4 linked regions of the Homo sapiens genome follow. The protein of the gene in region 2 purifies or fractionates together with the protein of the main gene of each other region. This does not show direct contact. Each region holds a gene or a part of one and is shown on either strand. Other genes may lie near its edges.

What was found. The genes of interacting proteins can lie anywhere in the genome.
Region 1: the proteins of NEK10 (region 2) and KIAA0586 purify together in Homo sapiens (affinity purification with mass spectrometry; one large-scale study listed by BioGRID and IntAct). This does not show direct contact.
Region 3: the proteins of NEK10 (region 2) and ST13 purify together in Homo sapiens (co-immunoprecipitation; one large-scale study listed by IntAct). This does not show direct contact.
Region 4: the proteins of NEK10 (region 2) and CS purify together in Homo sapiens (co-immunoprecipitation; one large-scale study listed by IntAct). This does not show direct contact.

Annotation. Positions count from the first base shown.
Region 1 is NC_000014.9:58,430,596-58,434,318, reverse strand, and holds part of KIAA0586 (protein TALPID3), read right to left. Parts: intron 3,672-3,723; coding exon 3,602-3,671; intron 1,932-3,601; coding exon 1,862-1,931; intron 1-1,861. UniProt on the Homo sapiens protein: Required for ciliogenesis and sonic hedgehog/SHH signaling. Required for the centrosomal recruitment of RAB8A and for the targeting of centriole satellite proteins to centrosomes such as of PCM1.
Region 2 is NC_000003.12:27,306,850-27,310,572, reverse strand, and holds part of NEK10 (serine/threonine-protein kinase Nek10), read left to right. Parts: intron 1-1,567; coding exon 1,568-1,647; intron 1,648-2,627; coding exon 2,628-2,714; intron 2,715-3,723. UniProt on the Homo sapiens protein: Plays a role in the cellular response to UV irradiation. Mediates G2/M cell cycle arrest, MEK autoactivation and ERK1/2-signaling pathway activation in response to UV irradiation.
Region 3 is NC_000022.11:40,853,740-40,858,107, reverse strand, and holds the start of ST13 (hsc70-interacting protein), read left to right. Parts: upstream 1-1,468; 5' UTR 1,469-1,567; coding exon 1,568-1,677; intron 1,678-4,368. Other genes in the region: XPNPEP3 (xaa-Pro aminopeptidase 3), read right to left, coding at 863-926. UniProt on the Homo sapiens protein: One HIP oligomer binds the ATPase domains of at least two HSC70 molecules dependent on activation of the HSC70 ATPase by HSP40. Stabilizes the ADP state of HSC70 that has a high affinity for substrate protein.
Region 4 is NC_000012.12:56,276,231-56,279,953, forward strand, and holds part of CS (citrate synthase, mitochondrial precursor), read right to left. Parts: intron 1-3,723. UniProt on the Homo sapiens protein: Key enzyme of the Krebs tricarboxylic acid cycle which catalyzes the synthesis of citrate from acetyl coenzyme A and oxaloacetate.

The DNA.
Region 1 (3,723 bases), on a different chromosome or scaffold from region 2:
TGGTGAGTTATTTCTTTCATCTAGATTTCTTAATTTGTAGCATTCATGTACACAGTATTCTTAATACACTGTATTCTTAATACCTTCTAAGTCTATCATTATGTCCTCTTTTTACTTCTAACATGCATTCTCTCACCAGTTTTCTGACTTAGACTTGTCCAAGATTTGCTTATTACACTGACGTACTTCTAGAACTAGTTGAAAACATTCTACTGTGTTTATGTTTTCTTTTATCTGGTATACTTGATTTCTTCTGCTTTCCCTGCTTTTTTCCTATCATTCAGCATCTGTCTGTCTGTCTGTCTCCCTATTTTTCTGATGAGACGGGGTCTCATTCTGTCACCCAGGCTGGAGTGCAGTGGCATGAACATGGCTCATGGCATCCTCAAACTCCTAGGCCCAAGTGATCCTTCCACCTCAGCCTCCCAAGTACCTGGGACTACAGGCACACACCACCATATCTGGCTAATTTAAAAAAATTAGCTATATTGCCCAGACTGGTCTCAAACTCTTGGGCTCAAGTGATCCTCCTGTCTTGGACTCCCAAAGTGCTAGGACTACAGGCATGAGCCACCATGCCCAGCTTCCTTCAGCTTTTATAAGAAATTATTTTCCTGCTAAATTTCTAAAATTGACTGTTTAGACTCTTTGTCCTCAAATTTCCATATGCTGTAATTTGATACAAAAAGGTGGTGTATTAACAGATCAATCCTAATTTCACAATAAGAGATAAAATCAGATATCTATGTATCCCGATGTATTACACAGGAAGTATATAATATCACCTATCAAGCATTCTTGCCACTTGACAGAAATTCAAGGTTGAAAGAAACATGTTAAAGACAACAAAAGGATACATTCAGCAAAATCCAGAAGGTAGAAAATTTCTTAAGACAAACAAATTATAAGAAAAACGAAATAAGGGTAAATCTGTAGATTAAAACAAACTGAAGGCTGATCATGGTGGCTCACACCTGTAATCCCAGCACTGTGGGAGACCAAGGTGGGCGGATCACCTGAGGTCAGGAGTTTGAGACCAGCCTAACCAACATGGTGAAACCTCATCTCTACTAAAAATACAAATAATAGCCAGGCGTGGTAGTGTGTGCCTGTAATCCCAGCTACTCAGGAGGCTGAGGCAGGAGAATTGTTTGAACCCAGGAGGTGGAGGTTGCAGTCCAGCCTAGGCAACAGAGCGAGACCCTGTCTTAAAAAAAACAAAAACAAAAACAAACTTAAGAGACATATCATTCAAATGTAAAGTGTGGCTCTTCCTTAGATTCTAACGCAAAATTAAATTAACCACAGGGCGCACTGGCTCACGCCTGTAACCCCAGCACTTTGCAGGGCCGAAGCAGGTAGATCACCTGAGGCCAGGAGTTCAAGACCAGCCTGGCCAACATAGTGAAACCCCATCTCTACAAATATACAAAAATTAGCTGGGCATGATGGCAGGTGCCTGTAATCCCAGCTACTTGGGAGACTGAGGCAGGAGATTGCTTGAACCTGGGAGGCAGAGGTTGCAGTGAGCCGAGATTGTGCCACTGCACTCCAGCCTGGGCGACGCGAGACTCCATCTCTAAATAAATAAATAAATAAAAGAAAATGGGGATTCTATAAAATTGGGATAGTAAATCTATTTTATAAGTGTGTTAAATGAGTTAATACTATAGCACTTCCATAATAATAACTGCTAACTGCTACTGAGTATTTTATACGTGTCTAGCACCATGAGAAATGCTTTATACATATCACACAATATATATTTCACATAGTGAAAAGGTTTTTCATATGTCCAAAGTACAAATGAAGCTGATTTACATAAGAAATGGTCCAATTATTTTCTGTAAATGAAACTTACTTTTGCTTTAAAACTGTTCTTAGAGCATCTTTCTGTCCCATTGTATACTGAGAAATGAAGATGTCATTTGCTGCAAAATCAAGACACAAAAATATATATTAAATTCCTGAATATTTATTAAACTTTAATAAGCTACTAAAAAAATCTTTTTTAACTAAAAGAATGTTTAGGAACTCAGCCATAGCATTCCACGATCGAAAAGGACAAGGAACAAATTAAGTGATTAAGTAATAATATAATCCTCATAATCCCAAACCCACAGCCAACATCATACTGAACGGGCAAAAGTTGAACACATTCCCCCTAAGAACTAGAACAAGACAAGGATGCCCACTCTTACCACTCTTTTCAATACAGTAGTGGAAGTCCCAGCCAGAGCAATCAGACAGAGAAAGAAAGAAAAGGCATCCAAAAAGTAAAAGGAAGTCCAATTACCTCTGTTCACTGATGACATGGTCCTATACCTAGAAAACCCTAAAGATTCCTACAAAATGCCCCTAGATCTGATAAATGACTTAAGTAAAGTTTCAGGATACAAAATCAACGTACAAAAATCAGTAGCGTTTCTATACACTAATAACATTCAAGCTGAGAATGAAATCAAGAACTCAATGCCATTTACAACAGCGGCACACAAAAAATAAAATTCCTAGGAATACATTTAATCAAGAAGGTGAAAGATCTCTACAAGGAGAACTATAAAACACTGATGAAAAAAATCACAGATGACACAAATAAGTGGAAAACATTCCATGCTCATGAATTAGAAAAATCAATATCGTTAAAATGACCATACTGCCCAAAGCCATCTACAGATTCAATGCAATTCCTATTCAATTACCAACATCATTTTTCACAGAATTAGAAAAAACTATTTTAAAATTCATATGGAGCCAGACACGGTGGCTCACGCCTGTAATCCCAACACTTTAGGAGGCTGAGGTAGGCAGATCACTTGAGGTCAGGAGTTTGAGACCAGTCTGGTCAAGATGGTGAAACCCTGTCTCTACAAAAAAAAAATAGAAAAATTAGCTGGGTGTGGTGGTGTGCACCTGTAATCCCAGCTACTCAGGAGGCTGAGGCAGGACAATTGCTTGAACCCGGGAGCTGGAGGTTGCAGTGAGCTGAGATTACGCCACTGCACCCCAGCCTGGACAACAGAGGGAGACTCCGTCTCAAAAAAAAAATTTATAAACATATCTAATACTAAACCTCTGCAATAGGTTGGTAATAACAAGATAACCTTCACCATTGCAAACCTTATTCTGGATTTTATAGCTTCTAGTGATAGCTTAATTTGGGAAGAAAAACTAATTTAAAATGAAAATAATAAAAACTATAAGACTACGTAATAAATGTTTAAAAATAAATTCTACCCTTAAGAAGAAAATTCTGACACATACTACAACATGGATGAACCTTTAAAACATTATGCTAAGTGAAATAAGCCAGTCACAAAAGGTCAAATACTATATGATTCTACTTATATAACGTACCTAGGGTAGTCAAATTCATAGAGACAAAAAGTAGGATGCCCAGGGCTGAGGGGATGAAAAATGAGCAGTTAGTGTTTAATGGGTAGAGTTGGGAGAGATGACAAAGCTCTGGATATGAAAGGTGATGATGATTGTACAACAATGTGAATGTACTTACTGTCACAGAACTGTACATTTTAAAGTAGTAAACTTTATGTTATGTATATGTTGTCACAATTTAAAAAAATCAATATTATTCTTTTACCTTTTTGCTTGTTGTTCTCTTCTATTTTATCCAAAGGCAACACTTGCACTGCAACGTCTTTAGAAAAATCCTTTGGGATATGAAAGGAAGAAATAGGCTAAATAAACTTCATGATTTATTAT
Region 2 (3,723 bases):
ATGTGGGGCTATATTAGTTTGAACCATATATGATTGCCATTGTAGGTCAAAACAGACTATATTTATAGCAAAACTGTTTAGACTGTAGCCATGTGGAGCCAAGTTTCAGAAACCTGTTGAGTTTCATATCCCGGGAAGCCACTTTCTAGTGTATATGGGAGCAAGATTGCCTAAAATGTGTTAACACATGCTGCTCATGGTCTAGAGGATGATTCTAGGTGATACACAGGTCAACATTTTTTGTTTCAGTAGCCAGCTATTTCACAGGTATTATTGCTTACAATTGGAAAAAATTTTTTTGAGTTAACATTAAAGATGTTAGTTGAATATGGCAAAAAATGTGAAAATGATATGTAATGGATTGAAGTTTGGGAAACATTAGAAGACAGAGAAGAAAGAGAGAAGAAAAAGAGGAAAGGATCAGACAAATAAAGATAATGATAACTTCATTAAGATAAAATGAAATCATAAAGGCAAAAAATCCATATACTGGAAACATAAAAATTACCTTAGCCGTTGTTGCGCAGGTTGCAGCTCTGACCTGAGACATTTTGGGAGGCACTTTTCAGGGGCACTCCGCATTCTGAAAATGTAGAGAATTTTCCAAATAAGAAAATTTGCCTTAACGAGAATTCAGGGAAAGCCACTGACAAGCTACAGACTTCCAGCTAAGTCATGTTAGTTAGGATGATGCTTGGGAGCATCAGTGATGCACTTTCAACATCAATTAGAAATCTGGGAGGCAAATGGAATGCTCGATAGTATTCATATCTTGTTTAGTTTGGCAAAAGAATGAAAGTTTCAATATTTTGTTGAAAAATCGTTTCATAATTTGGAAAGTGCCTAGCACAATGCCTGGCTCAAAGTGAGTTCTCAATGGCTGATCACTACCACTATTGTAATTTATGTCATTAATCTTCCTGGTTCTTCCCAGCGTGGGATCAGAAGGGGGAGAGAATACTTGGGCACATGGAAATAGAAGGATGTATGAGAACCAGGCTGGTCATGTAGCTTGATGCCTTTTCTTCCTGTCCTGGGCAAGGAATGGCTACAAGAGGTTACTATCAAGAGTTCCAAAGTAAGGAGAGATGGACTCCTGCCATCTGTAAAGAACTGGATATTTTGAATGTTTAATAAAACTCTTTTTAAGATAAACTTTTATATTGACTGCAAAAAATAAAAAGGAAGCTGCATAAGGCTTGATAGGGCATAATTTTTTTCACTATTCTATGGGTAAAGCCATAATAAAATAAACAACTTGATTATATTGACAAAAAGTGTTTATAAAGATATATTTAATGCCATGAAAAAATTTCAGTAGATAACATTAAGAAAAAAACATAAGAGAGAGCAGCTTTAACATTATATATAGTTTGTGCTTAATTGTATATGCACATACATTATAAACTACTAAGCAAAAAAAAAAAACAGTTAAGCCTATATGATCTTAAGAGGGAAGCATTTTGTCATTCAAGCAGCTGGTAATGGAAAATAAATTAATGTTAATGTTGAAAAAAGAAGCTTGTAGTACTTATATAATTAAACTTTATTTTACTTCATTTTTCAGACATTAGTAAATTTACTTGGTGCCCGAGATACTAATGTTCTATTGGGTTCCCTTCTGGCTCTGGCTAGTTTAGCAGAAAGGTAAGTAGTGTATTCTAATATACTTTCCAGTTCTGCTACTATAGCAATTTAGGTGGTAAGGATGCAAAATAATCAGTTACTTTGTCAACTACTTAATACAATTTCTTGATAAATAAGTGTGAAATAACATGTTGAAGAGAATCCTGGATAGAAGGCATTATTTAAAAATTTAAACTGGAAAGGCAAATTGCAGTTTAAAATTTTCTTTTTATTTCCTGACTGGAAATATTTAGTCTTTTCATCTAACCCTCAGTTACTTCTAATTTCAAAATTACCATAATATTTCTTTGGCAGTTGAATCTTTCTGACCATCTTAATTCATTCTTACCTGTGAATTTTAACATACAGAACGTTTTCAAACATCTGTGGGCTTTGAAAAATTTTCAAGAAGATCTTTCCTCTTATAAATGTCATGATTATTTTAAATGTTTTTATGACAATAAGTGGACCATTGCTTTTCTGTGAATAACATATGATTCCTTTTGTTTTTTGATCTCTTCTCCCAAGATAATATTGGAGCTAGGATATTAAATAAATAAATTTATATGGTTAGGCTTTGTGTCCCCAACCAAATCTCATCTTGAATTGTAATCCCTGTAATCCCCATAATTCCCTCATGTCAAGGGAGAGACCAGGTGGAGGTCATTGAATCATGGGGCCATTTCCTCCATGCTGTTCTCATGATAGTGAGTGAGTTCTCATGAGATCTGATGGTTTTATAAGGGGCTCTTCCCCCTTGGCTCGGCACTTATCCTTCCTGCTGCCTTGTGAAGAAGGTGCCTTGCTTCTCCTTTATCTTCCACCATGACTGTAAGTTTCCTGAGGCCTCCCTAGCCATGCTGAACTGTGAGTCAAGTAAACCTCTTTCCTTTATAAATCACCCAGTCTCAGGCAGTTCTTTATACCAGTTTGAAAAAGGACTAATACATGGATCTAGCAAAATATGCTTTTAGTAATTGCTAATATTTTTCAATTTATAGTCAAGAATGTAGGGAGAAGATAAGTGAACTCAACATTGTAGAAAATCTGTTGATGATTTTACATGAATATGACTTGCTTTCTAAAAGGTAGGATTGCTAACAGTAGAAAAAGACAATGCAGTGCCTTTATTTGACAGATACACTTGTTATTATTTTTATTACGTCATGTTATTTACATTGTAACTGAATATGATGAGTCAGCTTGGCATTTATTTTCTGTTTAAGTTTATATAAAGAAAATAGAGCAAAGAAGTATATCCATTTATGTTTAGTCCTGCATTACTTCTAGATCTGGGCATAGAAGCTGATGAAATAAATTTTTGTGATATCATTTTTAATGTTTTGTTTATTGCATTTATTTATATCCTGCCTTTTTAGGGAAAGAAACTCTGAGGTGGCTCTAGTTTTAGTAATTTCAAATTGTATATTACAATAAGTGATTAGGTTGCTAAAATCCATTTGCATGAAGGCAAGTAAAATAAGATAGCAACTGACTTGTTTTGTGATCACCTGCTATGATAACTCAAAATCTAGAGTAAAATGGATTCATTTTTACTTGAACTGCATATTGTTCTAATAACTATCCAGATAGTTATTAGATTGTACTTAAATAGAGTTGCAATCTATATCATTTGATATTTAGTTGAGTAATTTTCTAAAGAGGCAAAATAGATAAAAAGAAATCTCCAGCAATGGAGCCCTGACACTTAACTCATAGTAAATCCTTTTGGATTCTTCTTCAAAACTCTCATAAAAGAGCATTAAATATAGATAATACTTATAGACTTGGTTATCTGAACAAACAAGGTTCCAAGCTTGGTACCAGGTGTTGAAAACCAAAGATGAATAAGTTATAAATATGTAGTGTAGAAGAGGGTCAAACAGTGCTATAACTGATACGGTAGACAGATGCACAGGGTACTCTGGGAACATGGAGCAGAGACTTCCCAATTAGAATGTGGAGTCATGCAAAGTTTCCTGGAGGAAAGAGAAGATATCTAGGCAGAGAGAGAGAGACAACATAAAAACAGTATGTGCTTGGACATGGAGGCATGAAATTGGGTGTGTTAGAGGAATGTGATGGTTGGGCACAGCA
Region 3 (4,368 bases), on a different chromosome or scaffold from region 2:
TTGCACATCTTTCTTTTCACCTAATCCCACGGAGAGTTGTCTTTCTGCAGCTTTACTATGAGAACTGAAGAACAAGTTCTGTGCACTGGACAATAACTTTTTATTTTTTATAGTAAGAAGTCGATGTAATTAACATTCCATTTTAAATGAATTCAAGTATATCAACATAAACATATGCCAAGACATAGCTTTGATGTCAAATACCATACGTTCTGGTTCACACATTGTTCATATATTGACCCAAAAAACTGAAATACGATCCAATGGCAGATCCGCCTGCAAGGAAGGTGATTCAGTTTTCACTGATTAAGCTTTATGTTCATCAGATTAATTGCTCGCAATAGAGGACACCCTACAAAAAATTATTCTCCTTATCCTTCGTCTTGTCTTTGCAAACAGGACTTTCAGACACAGAACGCCCCAGAAGTATTTCGAAACAGTTACCTCTCCTAAGAGGAGCTGCTGAAAGAATTTGTTACTAAACATGCTTCGTGTATATTCTGGAGCAAGCTCTCACGCCTAACAGAAACAAGAGCTACTTGATGTGAGACACTTTGTCACTTAAGTGTGATAATTGCCACAACTTCGGAGTCCGAGTAACTTGGAAGACAGCCCCTCTGGGGGATGGCACACTTTTCTCTCTGCAGTCATTTCGGCTTCACAAAATACCTCAACGGTAGAGAACACACTGGGCCCACCCCTTTCCAGGAGCAGCCGGTATAGAAGAAATCCGCGGAGCACAGAGGGTTGGGGAGCGGAGGCCCCACCAGGAGAAGGGTCAGCCGAACCAGGGATCGCCTGAGACCAACTTGGGTCCCTCCAGGGGACACCATGGGAGGAGACCGTGGGAGAAGAGTCTAACCTGAGAGGCCGCGGACGTTTGCTACAGCGGGAACCAGCTTGGGGGCTGAGAGCAGCCAAGGCATTACGGCCTAACTCACGCGTCGGGAAGAGAAAGAGGGTAACGACGGGGAACGCAACCGCCTGCAGGGCCGCGTCGCCAGGAAACCGGGCCAGCCGCACCTCCCCTTCCGGCGGAGGCGGCTCGCGGGCCTTCCTTGCGCGGCGGCGCAGGTTGTGACGTCATGCCCCGAGCTGGGACCGACCCTCCGGCTCCACGCCCTTTTTTTTTTTTTTTTTTAGGTCCCGGGCGTTGAGCTCTACTCAGTGCACGCAGCCACACAATATGCTCTTGGACGTCGCCCCCTGGAGGGGATGTTATCTCCCGCCTCCTTGAAGTCGCCCATTTCTGGGGTTGCCCCATCCAGGGAGCTGGTTCCTAGTTAAGAATATGAGAATGTATGCGCAGGGAGGCAGGCAACAGCACGAACAGCCACGCTTCTAGAAGATTCTAGGGAGCGCGCAGGAGCAGCGCAGAGGGAGTAGGAATGAGCAGGCGGAGGACCCGAGGTCACGAGACCGTTGGGTGGGAGGAGCCAGCGGCCGGGGAGGTTCTAGTCTGTTCTGTCTTGCGGCAGCCGCCCCCTTCTGCGCGGTCACGCCGAGCCAGCGCCTGGGCCTGGAACCGGGCCGTAGCCCCCCCAGTTTCGCCCACCACCTCCCTACCATGGACCCCCGCAAAGTGAACGAGCTTCGGGCCTTTGTGAAAATGTGTAAGCAGGATCCGAGCGTTCTGCACACCGAGGAAATGCGCTTCCTGAGGGAGTGGGTGGAGAGGTGAGACCCAGGCCTGAGGACCGTTGGGGGCGGGGGAAGCACGGCCCCAGGGGGGAGCCAGGCTGGACCTGGCTCGGTCCGGCGGGCGAGGCGGGGTCGCTGCCCCTTCTTTGCCCGGGAAAGGGAGGCAACTTCGAGGGGTCATGGAAGATCGCGAGCCTTGGGTAGTACAGGAGCCGCGGGGAGCAGGAGGCAGAGCTGGGTTCCTCGCACCCTGAGGTTGCCCAGGGGTGTATCTTGGGCGAAATACAAAAACAGGACTGCGGATGCGTGGACACTGGAGACGCGAGGAGTGAAAACTGCAAGACTTAGATTTTGCGTGGGGTTGTTTTTCTTTCAGTCTTGTGTGCCCTGCTCAGGTCTCATTGGTACATAGCAGTTCCTTTACGCACTATTCCTTTACGTCGTGTTATAATAATATAACACTAGTAAGTTAAAAGTTACAAAACTAGTAAGAATAAAAATGATAACTGTAAAAATGATTGTTTTTACCTTACAGCGTTTGTAGCTGCGTAGGATTAATTATCTTGAGAATCACTTATTATACCTCCGTTACTTGGCAGTGTTATCACTCCAAACACGTCTGAGAAAAATAATTTCTTAAGGCCTGGCATGTTTCCAGGATATAATCTTGTTGTCTTTAACTGTAGAGTACTTCGCTACGTGCAAGGAGTTAATTGACAAGGCATTGTGCCTGGTGCTAGGAAACAGTATAAGTACTGTCTATTTAGACGAATAAATAGAAAAGTTCGTTTTGATATTTACTATATAATAGTAATTAGCATTTTATGTGTTGAAGGAGCACCGAAGAGAAAAAGTGACAGGGAAGTCTTCCCTAAGATGACTTTTTAAAAAATTATTACTAATGGGGAACTGAAAAGATGACATACAAATTGCACTAAACAGGGATAAATAGCAACTATGCAGACCATTGCGACTCCTAAGAGGTGCTGCTGTGAACGTTATGTGTTTAGTGACTTTTGTCTTTTAGAGACAGGGTTTGGCTGTATTGTCCAGGCCGCATACAGTGGCGGGATCACTGCAGCCTCCAATTCCTGGGCACAAGCGATCCTCCTGCATCAGTCTCCCAGGTGGCTAGCAGTGCGGGATCGAGCCACCATACTTGGCTAATTTAATTTTTTTGTAGAGATGGGGGTCCCATTAAGTTGCCCAGGCTTGTCTTGAACTCCTGGCCTCAAGGGACTCCCCCGCCTCCCAAAGTGGTGGTATTACAGGCGTGAGCCACTTCACCCAGCGTGATATTTTTGTGTGGGAAGATGAGCTCATGATTACCAAATAGCTCAAAGAATATTTCTTAACAACAATCTGGTTCTAAGGAAAAAACTCGTTACAATCTGTCAGCGTTGTATGTTGTATTTTTTTCCTCTAAGAAGTTTTTCAATTTTTAGCTCCCCACCAATTGTCTAACTACTGGAAGACTTACTTATATGTGAAATTCTGAGACCATTTAATATTACTATGTTAATAGTAACTTTATGAATATTGGTAAGAAGTCTATTTTGCAAACTCCTCAACCGGGAAATGTCAGGATTAGGAATTGAGGGCTAGGTTTTAGTCGTTTTCTCTATTGAACAGCTTGATGATCCAAAAGCCTTAAGATATTTGTATGCTTTTATCCTAATTATAGGAAAGAACCTGCAGTTAATAAATTCTTTCTAAAATTCCAGGTAACGTAGACAAGTATCACAGGAAGAAAATAGCCGGCTCCAAGAGCTGGCTCCACTTTACATTAAGTGGATACAATGTTTTTGTTTCATTCTTACTAGTGAGGAAGAGGAGACACAGAAGAACAAATTAAAAGCATGTGTAAGAACAGTGTCCTCCTGACTTGTGCTGGAGTGATTGTGCCTATGTAGAGAATTCCACTTTAAGGTTTGCAAAATATTTGTCAGGCACTACTATCTCCCAAACAAAAACAAGAAATAGTCATATACCTTATTTTAACATAGGTAATTCCAGTTTTTCTTTCTGATTCCACTTACATTCTTTAGCCATCCTGAGTTGGCTGAAGTATGGGGTGAAGCATCATGGCATATGTAGGGACTTTATTCTGAACTTAAATTGAGATATTTAATATAGAAGCTTTTTCTCTTTATTTCTGTATTTAAACTAAGATTTTTATAAACTCTGAGGCCTTTGCGTTTGTGTCAGTTTCTCTCTCTGCCTTCATCAGTCTGCAGTTCGAGATTGTGGCAGATGGGGCTGAATGTGGAGACTTCTAGGTCCAGACGTCTTCCTAGGCCTGATGCTACTGTTAGGGTTACTCAAGTTGAAAACATGTGTTTCTCACAGGCTTAGCTGTTGAAGAACAGTACATCTGCCTATTTGCTATAATTGCTAGCATTGTTTATAGCTTAGTTTTATTTGATATAAGGATTTATTAGTTTAACCTTTTAAATTGCACAAAGAGAAATACTAAAAGTCTTTCTGAACTAGTTGTCAGTGAGGATCCAGGAGACTGTTCTTTTCAAGAACTGTGTTTTGAGATATTTTTGTTTTTCCCTTTTTAGAGACAGAAGCATTCTCCCACTCTATTTTCTCCCGTTTAACAATTTAGTATCTTGTATGTGGTTTCATGGCTTTACTTGATGGTAATTAAGATCGAAGAGAGTGTCTTTGTTTTCTACTCCCTAGTACAGTACGTGGCACATGGCTTTTCCTAAATGTTGT
Region 4 (3,723 bases), on a different chromosome or scaffold from region 2:
GAATTATCAGCAAAGAAGAATTAGGCAGGGATATCGTCTGTCCTCCATGAATTGGGGCTATTTGGGTTGATGGTTAGTTATATGATGGGTTGTTATATATTGAGTATGTTTGAAAGTAGAGAATAACAATCATAACCATTTCACTGAATAACTATTATGACCCAGGCACTAAGTGATTTGTAATACTATCTAATGTACACTAAAACATTATTCCCAATGCTTACTACTACAAAGTATATAATGACTGCCATTTTAAAGATGAGTAAACTAAGGCTCATAGTATTAGGTTAAATGCTAAAGTCAAGTTTGAACTCTGATATGGTTTTCTGAGACAGAGTTTCACTCTTGTTGCCCAGGCTGGAGTGCAATGGCGCAATCTTAGCTCACTGCAACCTCCGCCTCCCAAGTTCAAGTGATTCTCCTGCCTCAGCCTCCTGAGTAGCTGGGATTACAGGCATGTGCCACCATACCCGGCTAATTTTGTATTTTTAGTAGAGACGGGGTTTCTCCATGTTGGTTAGGCTAGTCTAGAAACTCCCGACCTCAGGTGATCTGCCTGCCTTGGCCTCCCAAAGTGCTGGGATTATAGGTGTGAGCCACCATGCCTGGCCCTCTGATATGTTTAATCATGATCTTTTTCACTACACCATGACTTGACGTTCAATGTGTTAAGACAGCAGGTTTTACAGCCAGACACGGCAGCTCATGCCTATAATGCCAGCACTTTGGGAGGCTGAGGCTGGCAGATCATTTGAGGTCAGGAGTTCAAGACCAGCCTGGCCAACATGGTGAAACCTGGTCTCTTCTAAAAACACAAAAAATCAGCCAGGCGTGGTGTGGGCCGGCGCCTATAATCCCAGCTACTCGGGAGGCTGAGGCAGGAGAATTGCTTGAACCCGGGAGGTGGAGGTTGCAGTGAGCCGAGATAGTGCCACTGCACTCCAGCCTGGACCACAGAGCGAGACTCTGTCTAAAAAAAAAAAAAGGGGTCGGGCACAGTGGCTCATGCCTGTAATCCCAGCACTTTCGGAGGCCGAGGCAGGCAGATCATGAGGTCAGGAGATCGAGACCATCCTGGCTAACACGGTGAAACCCCGTCTCTACTAAAAATACAAAAAATTAGCCAGGCGTGGTGGTGGGCGCCTGTAGTCCCAGCTACTCGGGAGGCTGAGGCAGGAGAATGGCGTGAATCTGGCAGGTGGAGCTTGCAGTGAGCCAAGATCGTGCCACTGTACTCCAGCCTGGGCGACAGAGTGAGACTCCGTCTCAAAAAATAAAAAAAAAAGACACTAGGTTTTAATAATGAATTCTATGTTCCATCTTTCAAAGAAAATTCACTGTATGTGCCAAGGATCAAACAGTGATATGCAATTGTTATTTAATAACAAAGACTTCCATTCTTTTTTTTTTTTTTTTTTGAGATGGATTCTCGCTCTGTCGCCGAGGCTGGAGTACAGTGGCGCGATCTCGGCTCACTGCAAGCTCCGCCTCCCGGGTTCACGCCATTCTCCTGCCTCAGCCTCCTGAGTAGCTGAGATTACAGGATGCACCACCATGCCTGGCTTAATTTTGTATTTTTAGTAGAGGGGGGTTTCACCATGTTGGTCAGGTTAGTCTTGAACTCCCGACCTCAGGTGATTTGCCCACCTTGGCCCCTCAAAGTTCTGGGATTACAGGAGTGAGCCACCGCACCCGGCCGAGGCTTCCATTCTTTAAGCACTTACTATGCAACAGGTACTGTGCTATCTATTTGCAGTATTACTTTTTCTTTTCTTACAATAATCCTGTAAGGTAACATATACCTCTTTTTATAAATGAGGAAATTGGGGCTTAGCTAAGTTAACTTGCACAAGGTCACCCATGTAGCCAAGAAGCGTTACCTAGCTTACATTATTAACTCATGCCACTTTTATTTTTTGAGACGGAGTCTCACCCTGTCGCCCAGGCTGGAGTGCAATGGTGCGATCTCAGCTCACTGCAACCTCCGCCTCCGGGGTTCAAGCGATTCTTGTGCCTTGGCCTTCTGAGTAGCTGGGATTACAGGCGTGCGCCACCATGCCTAATTTTTTGTATCTTTAGTAGAGATGGGGTTTCACCATATTGGCCAGGCCGGTCTCAAACTCCTGACCTCAGGTTATCCACCTTCCTCGGCCTCCCAAAGTGCTGAGATTACAGGCGTGAGCCACTGCACCCAGCCCATGTCACTTTTTAAAAAGTTGATAAACAGGCCAAGCACGGTGGCTCACACCTGTAATCCCAGAACTTTGGGAGGCTGAGGAGCGCGGATCAAGAGGTCAACAGATCAAGACCATCCTGGCCAACAAGGCAAAACCCCATCTCTACTAAAAATACAAAAATTAGATGGGCGTGGTGGCTTGCACCTGTGGTCCCAGCTACTCGGGAGGCCAAGGCAGGAAAATTGCTTGAACCTGGGAGGCGGAGGTTGCAGTGAGCCGAGGTCGTGCCACTGCACTGCAGCCTGAGCGACAGAGACTCTGTCTCGGAAAAAAAAAAAAAAAGTTGGTAAATAAAAAGCATATATTTTTGGTTTATTTTATTTTGAGACAAAGTCTCGCTCTGTCACCCAGGCTGGAGTGTAGTGGTGCTATCTTGGCTCACTGCAACCTCTGCCTCCTAGGTTCAAGCGATTCTCCCACCTCGGCCTCCTGAGTAGTTGGGATTACAGGTGTGCACCAGGACGCTCAGCTAATTTTTGTATTATTTTGTAGAGATGGGGTTTCGCCATGTTGGCCAGACTGGTCTTGAACTCCTGACCTCAAGTGATCTGCCTGCCTTGGCCTCCCAAAGTGCTGGGATTACAAGCATGAGTCCCCACGCCTGGCCTACTAGCAAAACTTGATCTGTCAGCTACTTCACAAATTTGACTAAATTCAACAGCTTAAGGCTACTTCACAATTAAACAGCTGGTTGCATCAGAGCAATCAATCTCCTTGTTCTGAGTGACCTTAAGTCAATTAGAGGCCTAGAAGCTAGTTAAACTCTTTCAACTCAAGAGATTACACTATTCATCTAGAGTTAATGGAAATTATTATAGAAGAAATGTTCTGTGCAGAAGATCATCCTCTTAAGGTATATGTAAAAACAACTCCTTAAAAGCTCAAGAAGGCTGGGCACCATGGCTCACTCCTATAATCCCCAGCACTTTGTGAGGCCGAGGCAGGCAGATCACAAGGTCAGGAGTTCAAGATCAGCCTGGCCAACACAGTGAAACCCCGTCTCTATTAAAAACACAAGGCCAGGCGCGGTGGCTCACGCCTGTAATCCCAGCACTTTTGGAGGCTGAGGCGGGTGGATCACGAGGTCAGGAGATCGAGACAATCCTGGCTAACACGGTGAAACCCCGACTCTACTAAAAATACAAAAAATTAGCCAGGCATGGTGGCGGGTGCCTGTAGTCCCAACTACTCGGGAGGCTGAGGCAGGAGAATTGCTTGAACCAGGGAGGCGGAGCTTGCAATCAGCTGAGATCGCACCACTGCACTCCAGCCTGGGCAACAGAGCGAGACTCCATCTCAAAAAAAAAACCAAAAAAAAACAAAACAAAAGCAAAAAAGCAAAAACCAAAAATTAGCCAGGCGTGGTGGTGCGCACCTGTAGTCCCAGCTACCGGGGAGGCTGAGGCAGGAGAATCGCTTGAACCCAGGAGGCAGAGGTTGTGGTGAGCTGAGATTGTGTCACTGCACTCCAGCCTGGGCAACAGAG